3 separate regions of the Homo sapiens genome follow, and all the other regions are linked to region 3. Evidence: fine-mapped expression QTL. A gene starts in region 3. Each other region holds a variant in brackets. All regions are shown on one strand. Distances are between the middles of the regions.

Region 1 (4,242 bases), 59 kb before region 3:
TGTTTCATTTCCACTTAAGCTTATAATTATTGATACAATTATAAATACATTTAACTTTATATAAAATTGTATCTTGGCTAAAACACTAAGTCGTCATATATTATAAAGAACCTATACTGCAGTTGCACAAGACTTTTTAGGGGCTCTTTTGAAAAGGATTTTTTCTTAGCTGGTGAAAAAGAATTTGAGATCTGGTTAAAGATCCCTATAACACTAGTTGCTAAAAATCATCCCTAGATTGCCTTACTTCTAAGTGGATTATGAATGGCAAATAAAACAGTCCAGTAAGTAGGCAAAGTATCTACAATAAAATATTCACAAAGTACACTATATTAACACATGTAACATAAAAGTGTGCATATCTATATGACATCGTTATTATAGACATTATCCATTTAGTTGTATCATTATAGTATTTCCAAGTTATCAGTATTTTTTTTTTAAGAGACGGGGTCTTGTTATATTGCCCAGGCTGGAGTGCAGTGGCTATTCACGGGATCATAGGCACTATAGCCTCGAACTCCTAGCACAAGCAGTTCTCCCGCCTCAGCCTCCTGAGTAGCTGGGACTATAGGTGTGCACTACTGCACCTGGCTAAATGTAACCCTTTAAAGTTTAAGAGAGCAGCATGATTACATGTGTTTGTTTATTCTCCCCACTGAGACACCCATTAAAATAATAGTAAAGGCATAAAAGGGTTAAATCTACAATAACAAAAAAAAAAAAAAAGGAAAGGAAGTCCATCAGCAAAACAATGATTATATCAAATGTCTGCAAACTAGAAAATAAATTGTCAAGGAAGAGAATATGTTCTAGAAGACAGTCAATGTCTTCTGCTGGGAGGGAGACATGGAACATAAAACAAAATTAAAGTCCATACATAGACTATAACTACTATCAAAAAATTGGGGCAAAATGTTAATATTAAAGATTTGTATCTTAAAAAAACATGGTTGCACAGCATATTATTGTATTTTGGTAATTAGGCATCTTCCAGTGTAACACAGTGTTCCACCCAGTTACCTAAAATAAAAGCCACTAGCTTGGCAGAGGCAGTGGCTCACACCTATAATCCCAACACTCCAGGAGGCTGAGGAGGATGGATTGCTTGAGCTCAGGAGTTCAACACCAGCCTGGGCAACACTGAGAAAAATCTGTCTCTGCAAAAAATAGAAAAATTAGCCAGGTGTGGTGGCATGCACCTGTGGTCCCAGCTACTCGGGAGGCTGAGGTGTGAGGATCACTTGAGCCTGGGAGGTGGAGGAGGTTGCAGTGAGCTGTGATCGTGCCAGTGAACTCCAGCCTGGTGACAGACAGAGACCCTGTCTCAAAAAAACCAAAACAAAACGCCACTAGCTCATAAAGTTTTCAAAATCTTTCACTTAAGATTTCATCAAATCACCACCATGACCACCACCACCACCACCACCACCACCACCACCACCATCATCATCATCATCATCATCAACTTGAACAAAAACAAAGAATCACTGGACAATTCAGGAACGCCTACAACACTGGAAAAAGATACAGACAAAAAAATCATCCTGGAGGAAACATAAAATTCTAGATTAAAAAACTGAGATAATTTCAGCAAGCACCTGCATCCATACAATGAGAACAAAATGCAGTAAAACAAAACAAAACCCACCAACAATGATGGAATACACTATTGGAAATTAAAATGCAATTCAATAGAAATATCTGAAAGTAAACTTAAAAAATTTCATGGAAAATAAAATGGTAATGAGACAAAAGATATAAGAGAAAAACTGTAAGACCAAAAAAAAAAAAAAAACCCTAGAGATTCCAAAATATGTCTACTAAGAGCCCAGAGAGACAGAGAGAGAGAGACAGAGAAAGAGAGAGAGAGGGAGAGAGGTGACCCAGAGTACAAGTCATTAGCACAACAAATAAAAATCTATTCTCAGATACAGCATTATGAAATTAGCAGCACACCACAGATTAAAAGGCGCCCTTAGCGTTAAAAACAAAACAGGGGCACTTCAAGAAGACACAGGAACTAATGTGAAAGACCTTCCAATGGCCAAAGGTGAAACAATTTGAGCAAGAAAATGATAGTATTGAATTATAACCCAAAGAACAAAAGAACTACTCATGAGACCATACCAATGTAAATAAATGATTGCATAAATAATTGGAGAAGAAAGTATAAGTGGTACAAAGAACAAGGAAAATTGAAAATGACCTTTCAAACATCACAGTAATAA[C/A]TGCTGCAGGCAAGATCCACTGAGGAATGCTAAAAGTGAAGCTTTAGTATTTTATTTGTAAAAAAGCCCCCCAAACTCCTCTAAAATAGTAATTATTGTGGTGGTTTTAACATATGTCCACAAATTCTTCGATACTTCTCCCTTCAGGAGGTGAAGCTTAGTTCTCTTCCCCCTGAATGTCGACTGAACTTAGTGACTTGCTTCTAACAAACAATATGGAAAGAGAGAAACTGTAACTTTACAGTGAAGAAATGTGGCACACCCTACATTAACCAATACATCAGGGTTAACATCACCAATAATGAGATAATCACATTACATACTTCCTCTTATATGATAAGAGAAAGACACTAATGTGCTATTCTTCTCATGACAATTCACAATCTTACTCTAATCATTAGAAAACATTAGACAAACCCAATGTGACAGACATTCTAAAAATACCAAAACCACTTTCAAATGTGTCCAGGTGATAAAAGACAAGGAAAGGACTAGGAAAAGTCACAGATTGCAGGAGACTAAGGAAACATGACAAACAAATGCAGTGTGTTATTCCAGACTGAATCCTGGAAAAGAAAAGGTATATTGGTGGAAAGTGTAATTAATAGTATTGCAACAATGTTAATTTCTTAATTCTCATAAGGTACTGTGGTTATACAAGAAGTTTACAATAAGGGAAGCTTGGTGAATGATATGCGAACTCTATGCTAGCTTTGCAACTCTTCTCTAAGTATAAAATTATTTCAAAATAAAAATAAAGCTGCAGGGAAGAAATCAGGTCACCTACAGAAAAAAAAAACAAGAAAAAATAACAAACCTCTTGTTGATAAAACAGATGAAAGAAAATAGAGCTGTGACAATGTTTTAAGAGAATGTAATTTTCAATCTAGAATACTGTATTAGCCAAACAACCAAATTAAGCAGAAAGAGAAAATAAAGAATCCTTTAGACAAATTTATTTCCCCAAGCTTTTCGTTAGGAAGCATTTCAGCACGTTTTCCAGCAACGAAGAGAGTAGACCAAGAAAAATGAAAACACGAGATCTTGAGAACCAATATGAGATCTAAAACGAACAGAGAAGGGAAGAAATCTCAAGATAATACCCCTGGAACAGGTCTACAGAAGAAACTGTTCATGTTCATTAGAAAGATGGAAGGCTCCAGAAAAAAGGAAAATGTGACTGGAATTCACATTGTTCTTAAAAACTTGAAATAACTAAAGATTATTTCAGGTAAAGTCAAACAATACAAGAAAAAAGAAAAGGCATTGTCTAACTTTATTGGAAATAGAGTGGTGAGTTAAGAGAGAATGCCTGGCCTGCATACAGTTTTTCAAAAGAATCTTAATGTCTTCAGATGGTGCAAAGTGAAGTAAATCCTTAATTCTAAATGCAAGAACTCAATAGATAGTATAAAATATTGATAGATCAATAAATAACAGTGTTTAAGTATATGATTTAGATACATGACAGTCATCCTAGAAAGAACAAAAATGCAAAAATAGTTAAAATAGTTAGCTATGATATTCTCTGGAAAGCAGGATGGGGTGGGGCAAAGAGCCTCCTTATTACAGTAAACTTTTCTGTGATTTCATTTTTAAATACCATATGCATATATTGTTTTGAAAACCTTTACAAATTTTTTTAAAAAGCAAACAGATCACTATTTTCAGCAGTGAATACAAATAACTCCATTCATTCATAGCCAAGTCAATAAGTTTCTATTTGTAGTAGTGGTTAGACATCAAATAAAGCATAGTTGTTGCTACGAATGGTTAAGGCTTTCAACTTAACATATTAAATGCTTAATCAATACTTATTTCAAAATATATTTTTTCATATTCTTTTAGACAAATTTAACAAACAGGAGTTACTCTGTTAAATCTTTAAAAGTAACAATTTTAAGTATACTGATATTAATATTTTTTAGTGTCAACCTGTTTTAATTAAACAATTTTATGTGTGATATATTTAAGATGTTTGAACCACTGAAAGTAAGCTTAAAGTATATTG
Region 2 (4,242 bases), 33 kb before region 3:
GTCAGACCTAGAGAAACACTTGATCAAGATTTAAGTGGCTAAACTAAGACTTGAACCTTAGAACTATAAACTTTTAAGATAATTAATTGATAAAGATCAAATAAATCTATAAGTATTCTAATTTGAGTGATGATGATCCCATTAACAGAAATAGGGGAACCCCGGAGAGGAAGCAGGTTTGGAAAAAAAATCAGTTCTACATTCAGATGTCTCCTACAGACACAACCCAGCTCAAACTCTGTCTTCAACTAGAACTGCTCTTCCTCCAAGAAGTCAGGCTTGGCACTATCTCTTCTCCAACCACGATATTTAACTTCCTGTCCCTTTCACTCCGTTTATTTTTGAACTCAATCTTCATCCTCACTTTGTTCCCTAGTTATGTGGACACACTCTCAATCCAACCCTCCTCTGGCTTCGCTTAGCATCCGTGGTAATCCCTTGTGTCTCGCTGAACTTCTGCCACACCTGATGGTAATTCTTATCATCCACTTTCTGGTGTTCTTAGGCTGCTAAACACCAAGGAAAGAGATTACAGGAGGGCTAATAAAGCCCTAAACTTTACATTACCTGAGCCATCACTGTTGCTTGGTAACCTTTCATTCATCCTATGCTGGCAATGTACATAGCCCTTCATTGGCTGTTCCAATTTTTTTCCCTCTGTCCTCAAATCCTCATTCCCCTTTCCTTGCACCTTACAATCTGTAGATGATTTTGCCTCCTAATTTACTGAGAAGTCACCCAAAAGTATCTTTATTCTCCCTTCTATTATCAGCATCTGACTGGTTCTCCAAACATTGACTCACCTTTTTAAAATCTCATTTTAGAAGCACTTTCACTTGGGTGACAGACCCTGTCTCAAAAAAAAAAAAAAAGAAAAGTTATTTATCAGTGCTGTCCAATATGATAGCCTCTTGCCACATGTGGTAATTAGCACTTTAAATGTAGTTAATGCAACTGAGGAAATAAGTTTTTAATTTTAATTAATTTTAGGTTTATAAGCCACATGTGACCAACGGCTTTCATATTGAACAGCACAGTTCTTAGGTCTTATCAAATGATTCAAACACAAAACCTGCTGAACTTTTCTCAATACTCTCAAGTCAACATTCAATACCATCTGAGATTCCTCTTAGCTGCTGACATACTACCCTGTTCTCTTTCTATTTCTCTGATGGTTCTCACTTTTCTTAACTTTCTGCTTTTGGCCCCCAAAGACCAGGTGTAACCCTAAGTTCAGTTCTCATAATTCTGCAATTCAAACTCAAAACTGTCTGCCTCAATTTCATACACTGCCATAATTTCTACACCATCTCCATGCAAAAGACTTTCATATCTAGACTGCTGATTCTGATCTCTTCTCAGGACCAATCTCCAGATACAAACTAGACACTTTCAACATACTATTAGCTCAGACTTATTAACAAATATCAAAATTCAGGTTCATCACTTTCATTTTCTGGAAGTCATTTCTTTCAATGGCACAAGCACTTTCATGGTCATCCAGATTCAAACTCTACAGAATTACCCTTAAAATATTTTTCCTCTCTCCATTCATACATCAAATTCTTTTTTATTTTTATTTTTTTAAGACTCTTGAGAACCACATACTTTACACTCAAGTTCAGACTTCCCATCACTGATATCTGAGTCAATACTATGGTCCCGAAACTGGCTTCCCCATTTCTCCTACGTCTGTTAAAAAACAAAACTAGCTTGGGCAACATGGCAAAACCCCATCTCTACAAAATACAAAAATTAGCTGGGCCTGGTGGCAGCACACCTGTAGTCCCAGCTACTTGGGAGGCTGAGGTGGGCGGATTGCTTCAGCCTGGGAGGTGGAGGTTGCAGCAAGCCAAGATCACACCACTGCACTGCCTGGGTAACAGAGTGAGATCCTGTCTTCAAAAAAAAAAAAAAAAAA[C/AC]TAAAACTAAAACACTGCTTTATAAATGAAACTTCCTGTCCCCTACCCCTCAAAAATATACACATTCACATACCCTTTTCACCTGTCCTTGGTCTGACATCGTCATTCTACAACCAAACTTCTACCAACCTTGTGAACTTCATTTTCTAACATTCTCCTCAAAGTCTCCACTAGAACTTTAAAGGTCTATCCATTCTTTCTTATACAAAGCATATTCCAACTTCCTATTGAGAGGTGACAGCGTGCTGGCAGCCCTGGCTCACTCTCGGTGCCTCCTCGGCCTCGGCGCCCATTCTGGCTGCGCTTGAGGAGCCCTTCAGCCCACCGCTGCATCGTGGGAGCCCTTCTCCGGGCTGGCCGAGGCTGCAGCTGGCTCCCTCGGCTTGCGGGGAGGTGTGGAGGGAGAGGCACGGGTGGCAACCGGGGCTGCGCGCGGTGTTTGCAGGCCAGCTAGAGTTCCGGGTGGGTGTGGGCTTGGCGGGCCCTGCACTTGGAGCGGCTGGCCTGCCGGCCGGCCCTGCTGGCCCCCGGCAGTGAGGGGCTTAACACCTGGGTCAGCAGCTGCGGAGGATGCGCCGGGTCCCCCAGCAGTACTGGCCCACTGGCGCTGCGCTCGATTTCTCGCCAGGCCTTAGCTGCCTCCCCGCGAGGCAGGGCTCAGGATCTGCAGTCCACCATGCCTGAGTCTACCCCCACCCAGCCGTGGGCTCCTGCACAGCCTGAGTCTCCCCCAACCCCCGTGGGCTCCTGCACGGCCTGAGTCTCCCCAACAAGCACCGCCCCCTGCTCCATGGCACCCGGTCCCATCGACTGCCCAAGGGCTGAGGAGTGCGGGCGCATGGCACGGGACTGGCAGGCAGCTCCACCTGCAGCCCTGGTGCGAAATCCACTGGGTGAAGCCAGCAGGGCTCCTGAGTCTGGTGGGGACTTAGACAACCTTTACGTCTAGCTAGGGGATTGTAAATACACCAATCAGCACTCTGTATCTAGCTCAAGGTTTGTAAACACACCAATCAGCACTCTGTGTCTAGCTCAAGGTTTGGAAATGCACCAATCAGCTGTGTCTAGCTAATCTTGGTGGGGACTTGGAGAATCTTTATGTCTAGCTAAGGGATTGTGAATGCACCAATCGGCACTCTGTGTCTAGCTGAAGGTTTGTAAATGCAGCAATCAGCACTCTGTGTCTAGCTCAAGGTTTGTAAATGCACCAATCAGCATTCTGTGTCTAGCTCAGGGTTTGTAAATACACCAATCTACACTCTGTATGTAGCTAATCTAGTGGTGACGTGGAGAACTTTTGTGTCTAGCTCAGGGATTGTAAACGCACCAATCAGCACCGTGTCAAAATGGACCAATCAGCGCTCTGTAAAACAGACCAATCGGCTCTCTGTAAAATGGGCCAATCAGCAGGATGTGGGTGGGGCCAGATAAGAAAATAAAAGCAGGCTGCCCGAGCCAGCAGTGGCAACCCGCTCGGGTCCCCTTCCATACTGTGGAAGCTTTGTTCTTTTGCTCTTCGCAATAAATCTTGCTGCTGCTCACTCTTTGGGTCCACACTGCCTTTATGAGCTGTAACACTCACCGCGAAGGTCTGCAGCTTCACTCCTGAAGCCAGCGAGACCACGAACCCACCGGGAGGAAAAAACGACTCCAGACTCACTGCCTTAAGAGCTGTAACACTCATCGCGAAGGTCTGCAGCTTCAATCCTGAGCCAGTAAGACCATAAACCCACCAAAAGGAAGAAACTTCGAACACATCCCCACATCAGAAGGAACAAACTCTGGACATGCCGCCTTTAAGAACTGTTAACACTCACCGCAAGGGTCCGTGGCTTCATTCTTGGAAGTCATTGAGACCAAGAACCCACCAATTCCGGACACACTATCTTTTGTACAATGCCTTCCTTCTTTATTCCTGTTAGGGCTCTCCTTTTCTCAAAGAATTAGTTCAAGCCTACCAGGTTTCATGGAGTCTTTTATTTCTGCCCTGGCTCTCAGAAGATTCATCCTGCTCTTAATTTTAGTATTACCATCTTTTACCATTCATCTCTCTTTTAGCATATGCCACTTGTATTACTTCTATGCATTACCTTTTATTTTAATGAATATTCTGTCTCCTCAACTGGAACATAACCTTTTGGAAGGCAAAGGCTTCTACCTTTATGCTCTCAGAACTTAGCCTTGTGCTTAGACTTAGTAGGAATTTAAGGAATAAGTCCCAAAGAAATGGATATGCAGTTGAGAAGTGGTAAGAGGACAAAGTTAGTAAACAGGACCACTAACAATTAAATGGATAAAACAGGAAATAACGGTAAAAAGCA
Region 3 (4,242 bases):
GGGTGATGGTTAATTGTTGGGATAACCCAGCATTCTGAACTTGCAAATTTGAAAGACTCTGAATATTCTGAACCTGTACAGTTTGCCAACTGATTTGCCCTGAAGGTGTTAAAGTTGGAGCCCTGATAAGCACCTGAGTCGGATTTACTGCTTGAAGTTGAACATTCTGTAAAGGCTGCTGCTGGATGGTCTGAATCGTCTGCCCTGACTGGAGTTGAAACGACTGTGGTGGAATAGCCTGAATGATCTGTTGCTGAGGCTGTTGGATCTGGATCTGCTGTAAGATAGGTTGGCCTACAATTTGCACCTGCTGAAGAGAATTTGATTGATCCTGTGCATTCTGCATTCCATTAGGCTGAAGCTGACTGGAGCTCTGGGCTTCAGACTCAGTAGCAGCAGGTGTTTGAGATTCTTCAATGGTGCGTTCAGAACTACTGGCTGATGTGCTTGCATACTGGCCAGTATCTGCTGAGCTCACTAATGTGTCACTGCTTGTCAAAGACGTTGAAGCAGTGGTTGTGCAGGTAGTGGAGGAGGAGGGAGATTCTGGCATAGTACTGGCAGAAGTAGTGGTGTTGGTGGGTGTGGAAACTAATTGATTCCCATTGGAAGTCCCACTATCAGCAGTAGCAGCAGGCTGGCCAACCTGCCCAGTCCCTCCTCCGGCAGCCACGTTGTTTATCACTGGCAAAGCTAGAGTCACTCCTCCAATGTTAATTGGTAGGGTTGTTACAACTTGAGCCTGAGTACCAGGAAGAGTCTGTAACTGCAGTGGTATTGAAACACCAGGTCTAATTTGGACCGGAACTGTCTGATTTGCCAGGTTTTGAGCAAGAATATTCCCAGAAGCTGTCCTGTTAGCAGCTGTGAGTATAGCTTGATTATTACCTGCAGAAATGAGCTGAATTTGACCCTGCAAATCCTGTAGAGATGAACTACTAGTTGGATTGATTTGAATTTGTTGACCTTCCACTGTCTGAAGTTGTGGAATTACTTGGTACTGTACACTACCACTTGGATTTTGTACTTGTATGACTTGAAATTGACCAGGGGTGGAAGAATTACCTGATTTAGTTTTTGTAGGAGATGCACTCCCGTTATTACTGCTGGAAGAACTAGACGAACTAGAGGCTGGTTGAGAAACGTTATTCTCTTTTGAAGCAGGAGGAGTGGAGGCAACAAGTTGCCAAGCGTTTCCAGCAAGTTGCGTTGTTACCAGTTCTAGCTGTTGTGGTTGATTTTGAAGTTGCACCAATCCTTGACTTGGATCTATAATAATTTGTTGTTGTCCAGTTGCTTGATTTTCACCAGGAGTCCCTATTTTGCTGCAAGTAGCTGCCAGTAAAGCCAGAGGAGAGGGCTGAGAGTCCTACCCAAAATGGGACGGTAAAGGAGAGGGGGGGGGGAAAAAAAGTGGGCGGATTTAGTGGAGGCCAGTAGTTGCCAGGGGGTTACTTATTTTGACAGCTCTACATAACAATTTAGGAAGCAGCAGAAATCAAAAAGAAATACGAACAAAAGTAGATAAGAACTATATGAATAAGGAAGCAAGTCCTATAATATCAAGTTTAAATAAAAGGAAATTTCTTTACAACTTTGTAAAGTGTTATGTTCCTAAACTCAAAATGCCCTTGGGAACACACACACCGTTTTCTTATAGTCTGAATTCCTGATGTAATTTTAAACAGCGTTATACCCTCAAAGAGGTGAAAACTTGATGAATTTACAATTTAAGTTCCACACTCTCAGAAAGATGCTTTGAGTGGATAAACATTTTATTCTGTTACTTCTGGACATTCAAAGGGCATAACTCCCTCTCTCTCCTAATGTGTCGTGATGAATTTTTTTAATTTGTTTGCTTTTACCTGGGAGCCTGAGGTTTTGGGTTTTTTATTGTTATTCTCTGGCTCAGAGGTTTTCCCTCCTTCTGTAGCCATCGCCGCTGCCGCTGCCGCCTCCTCCTCCTCCTCCTTCTTCTGATCTGCAACAAACCCCCCCACCACACACACACGACAACAGGTTATTAGGATTATTATTATTCGTCTTCTTCCTCTCCTCTTCTCCCCCCTCCCCCCGAACATTAATCTCCATAAACCCGCGATCCACGCACACCGGCAGGGGGTGGGGGAGAAGGAGGGAAGGGAGGAGGGGGATATCACAAAACGTGGTTTGAAACCCGACCCATCGGCTCCAGAGCAACACCCAGAAGGAGGTTGTTCTCTCTCAGACATTAAGACAAAACACAACCCTCCTTCCCTCCCCGATTCCCTCCCGCCCTCTCCTCCTCCCCTTAAAGCATCTCAGCGGCCCCGGGGGAGGGGGGAGAACCGAGCAGGGTCTGGGGAGGGAGGGAGAGAGGGAGGCGGCGAAGGAGACTGAGGGGGGTGGAGAATACGTACCGCTCATCCCGCATTAACAGGACAAACCCTCAGACGGAGACACTGGGATAGAGGTGGGTGGGGGTGGGGGCGAGGCGGGAGGAGAGGCCGGTCCCGCCCGCCCGCGGTGGCTCGGAGGAGGCTGTAGCTGGCACAGGCTCTGCCTCTTTTTCCGCGAATGGCCGCCGCTGGGCTGTGGCGTAGCAGCTCCTCTCTCCGCCCGAGCCCGGCTGACTCGCCCTTGATTGACAGCGGCGGCGCGCGGCGCGGGCGGCGGCGCGGGTCGGGGGCGGGGCCAGGGCGGTGCGAGCCTGGCCGACTCCCCACCCCCCTCGGCCTCTCTCCGCCGGAGCCTCCGACTCTCCACCCCTTCCCCCAGCGGATTGGCCGCCGACCTGCCGGGGGCCGGGGCGCTGGGGCCGCCTCCTCTCCACCCCCTTTCTCGGGGTTATTCCTTTAGCAGCTCTTCTCCTCCTCCCTGGCTCCTCTGGCGCTCTTTCTCTCGGCGTTCTAGCTCAGGAGCGCTGCCGGTAGGCCCTCCATACAGCCAAACTTGTTGTCTCAGGATATCCCGCCCCCTACTCATTTCCCAGCGCCCTCCACTCAAAAACCCCCTCCAGCAATCCCTCCAATTGCCACTAAAGAAAAAAGTAGGGCCCTTGATCCAGGCAAGCGAGAGCGGCGGACGTGGGCGCGCGCGGACCACCAACAGGTCGGCGCGCTGGGTGAACTGCCCGCTGCCCCCGCGCAGGGAGCATGGCTTTCCTGAGGCGCATCCGGACCCGGGCGCCCTTTTTCCCTGGCTCTGTCTCCATTGGCTGAGCCCAGGGTGACGCGCGCTGAGTGGTGGGAGAAAGGGGGTGGGGCACTACCGCGAAGGCTGTCGGTACTCGTAGTTTCCGGCGGTCGCGGTGCCTTCTTCGAGGCACCGCCTCTCTCCCGCCCCCGACCGAGGCCTGGCTGCCGAGCGGAAAGCTGCCCGAGGGGGCGGTGGCGGCAGGGCGTGGCCGGGGCCGAGTGGGAGTTGAACTGAGCGAGGAGGAGGGGGAATGGGTGTTGTTTGCCTGGGCCTATCCGCCGCGCGGGGCTGCCCAAACCACCTCTGCCGCCGCCTCCTCGGCTCCAAGCCGCTCCCCGCGGGGCGAGCTCACACCCGGAGCGCTCGGCGATTGAGCGGGCGGCGGCGTGGGGAGGCGGGGTTTGCTGTCCTCGGGGTTTGAATGAACCCGGCTTCTTGAAGCAGCGCCCTCGCCTTGCCTTTCTTTGCTCACCTTCCCCTCAGGCCCCCTGCTTTGAGTCCGAGGCCTGTTTTCTCACGGAGAAGGATCTTCCATTTTTATTTGTTGTCTCTCTGGCTGGCAGCTGGTGCAGAGCAGTGACCCGCCTTCTAAGAAGGGTTGCATCGCGTTTTGCCTAAAAGCCTAAGTGGTTGGCGGAGTTCTAAGCCTTATCTGACAAGAGTCTCCGGGCGAAGAAAAGCCCAGCTCCATAAGGGTCAGCCCCGCTTACGGTGTAGCGTAAGCAAGCGTAAGGGCAAGTGGAATTAACATCTGGCTGCACAAAGCATCTTACTGTCAAATGCACTTGAGCAGTGTCCTGCCTCAGCTTTCCTACAAAGTCCTGAAGTCAGGATGATGCCATGGAACGTAATCAGCGCCTGATTAACTGTACCAAAGGTGGAAGTGACCCCACATGTAAATACTGGCCTTGGGAACAAGGCATGCTTACACCCCAGGCTCAAAGCCATTGTCTCACTTCTTACCTGGGCTTCACACTCAGCCTTGGGCATTTTTGTCTCCTGCCTGAGGCCTGACATGTTGCAATGGTGAGGAGGTCCCAGATGCTGAACTTGACTGGCATTTCC

Which allele goes with the higher level. Positions count from the first base shown, and alleles are read on the strand shown. Sizes are in standard deviations (SD) of each study's normalised expression. Not every link is listed here.
With allele AC in place of C in region 2, the expression in regulatory T cells of the gene that starts at base 2,575 in region 3 is lower (large effect, 0.77 SD a copy in Schmiedel 2018).

What was found. PIP is the estimated chance that this variant, and not a neighbour inherited with it, causes the effect.
Region 1: its variant is the best candidate, but not a certain one, in a credible set for the expression of SP4 in lung (TOPMed, PIP 0.58).
Region 2: its variant is the best candidate, but not a certain one, in a credible set for the expression of SP4 in regulatory T cells (Schmiedel 2018, PIP 0.54).

What each region holds. Positions count from the first base shown.
Region 1 is chr7:21,484,967-21,489,208 of GRCh38, reverse strand. All of the region lies in intron 5 of SP4 (Sp4 transcription factor), which reads right to left. Among named protein-coding and RNA genes, the nearest start is that of MIR1183, 16 kb to the right of the region's middle. The variant C/A (reference allele first, on the strand shown) is at 2,232.
Region 2 is chr7:21,459,707-21,463,948 of GRCh38, reverse strand. The region is part of intron 3 of SP4 (Sp4 transcription factor); the gene reads right to left. Among named protein-coding and RNA genes, the nearest start is that of MIR1183, 9.2 kb to the left of the region's middle. The variant C/AC (reference allele first, on the strand shown) is at 1,922.
Region 3 is chr7:21,426,416-21,430,657 of GRCh38, reverse strand. SP4 (Sp4 transcription factor) reads right to left here and starts at 2,575. Exons shown (of 6, transcript NM_003112.5): 1 at 2,400-2,575; 2 at 1,866-1,981; 3 at 1-1,369. The coding sequence starts at 2,406. RefSeq lists silencers at 2,282-2,871, 3,252-3,641.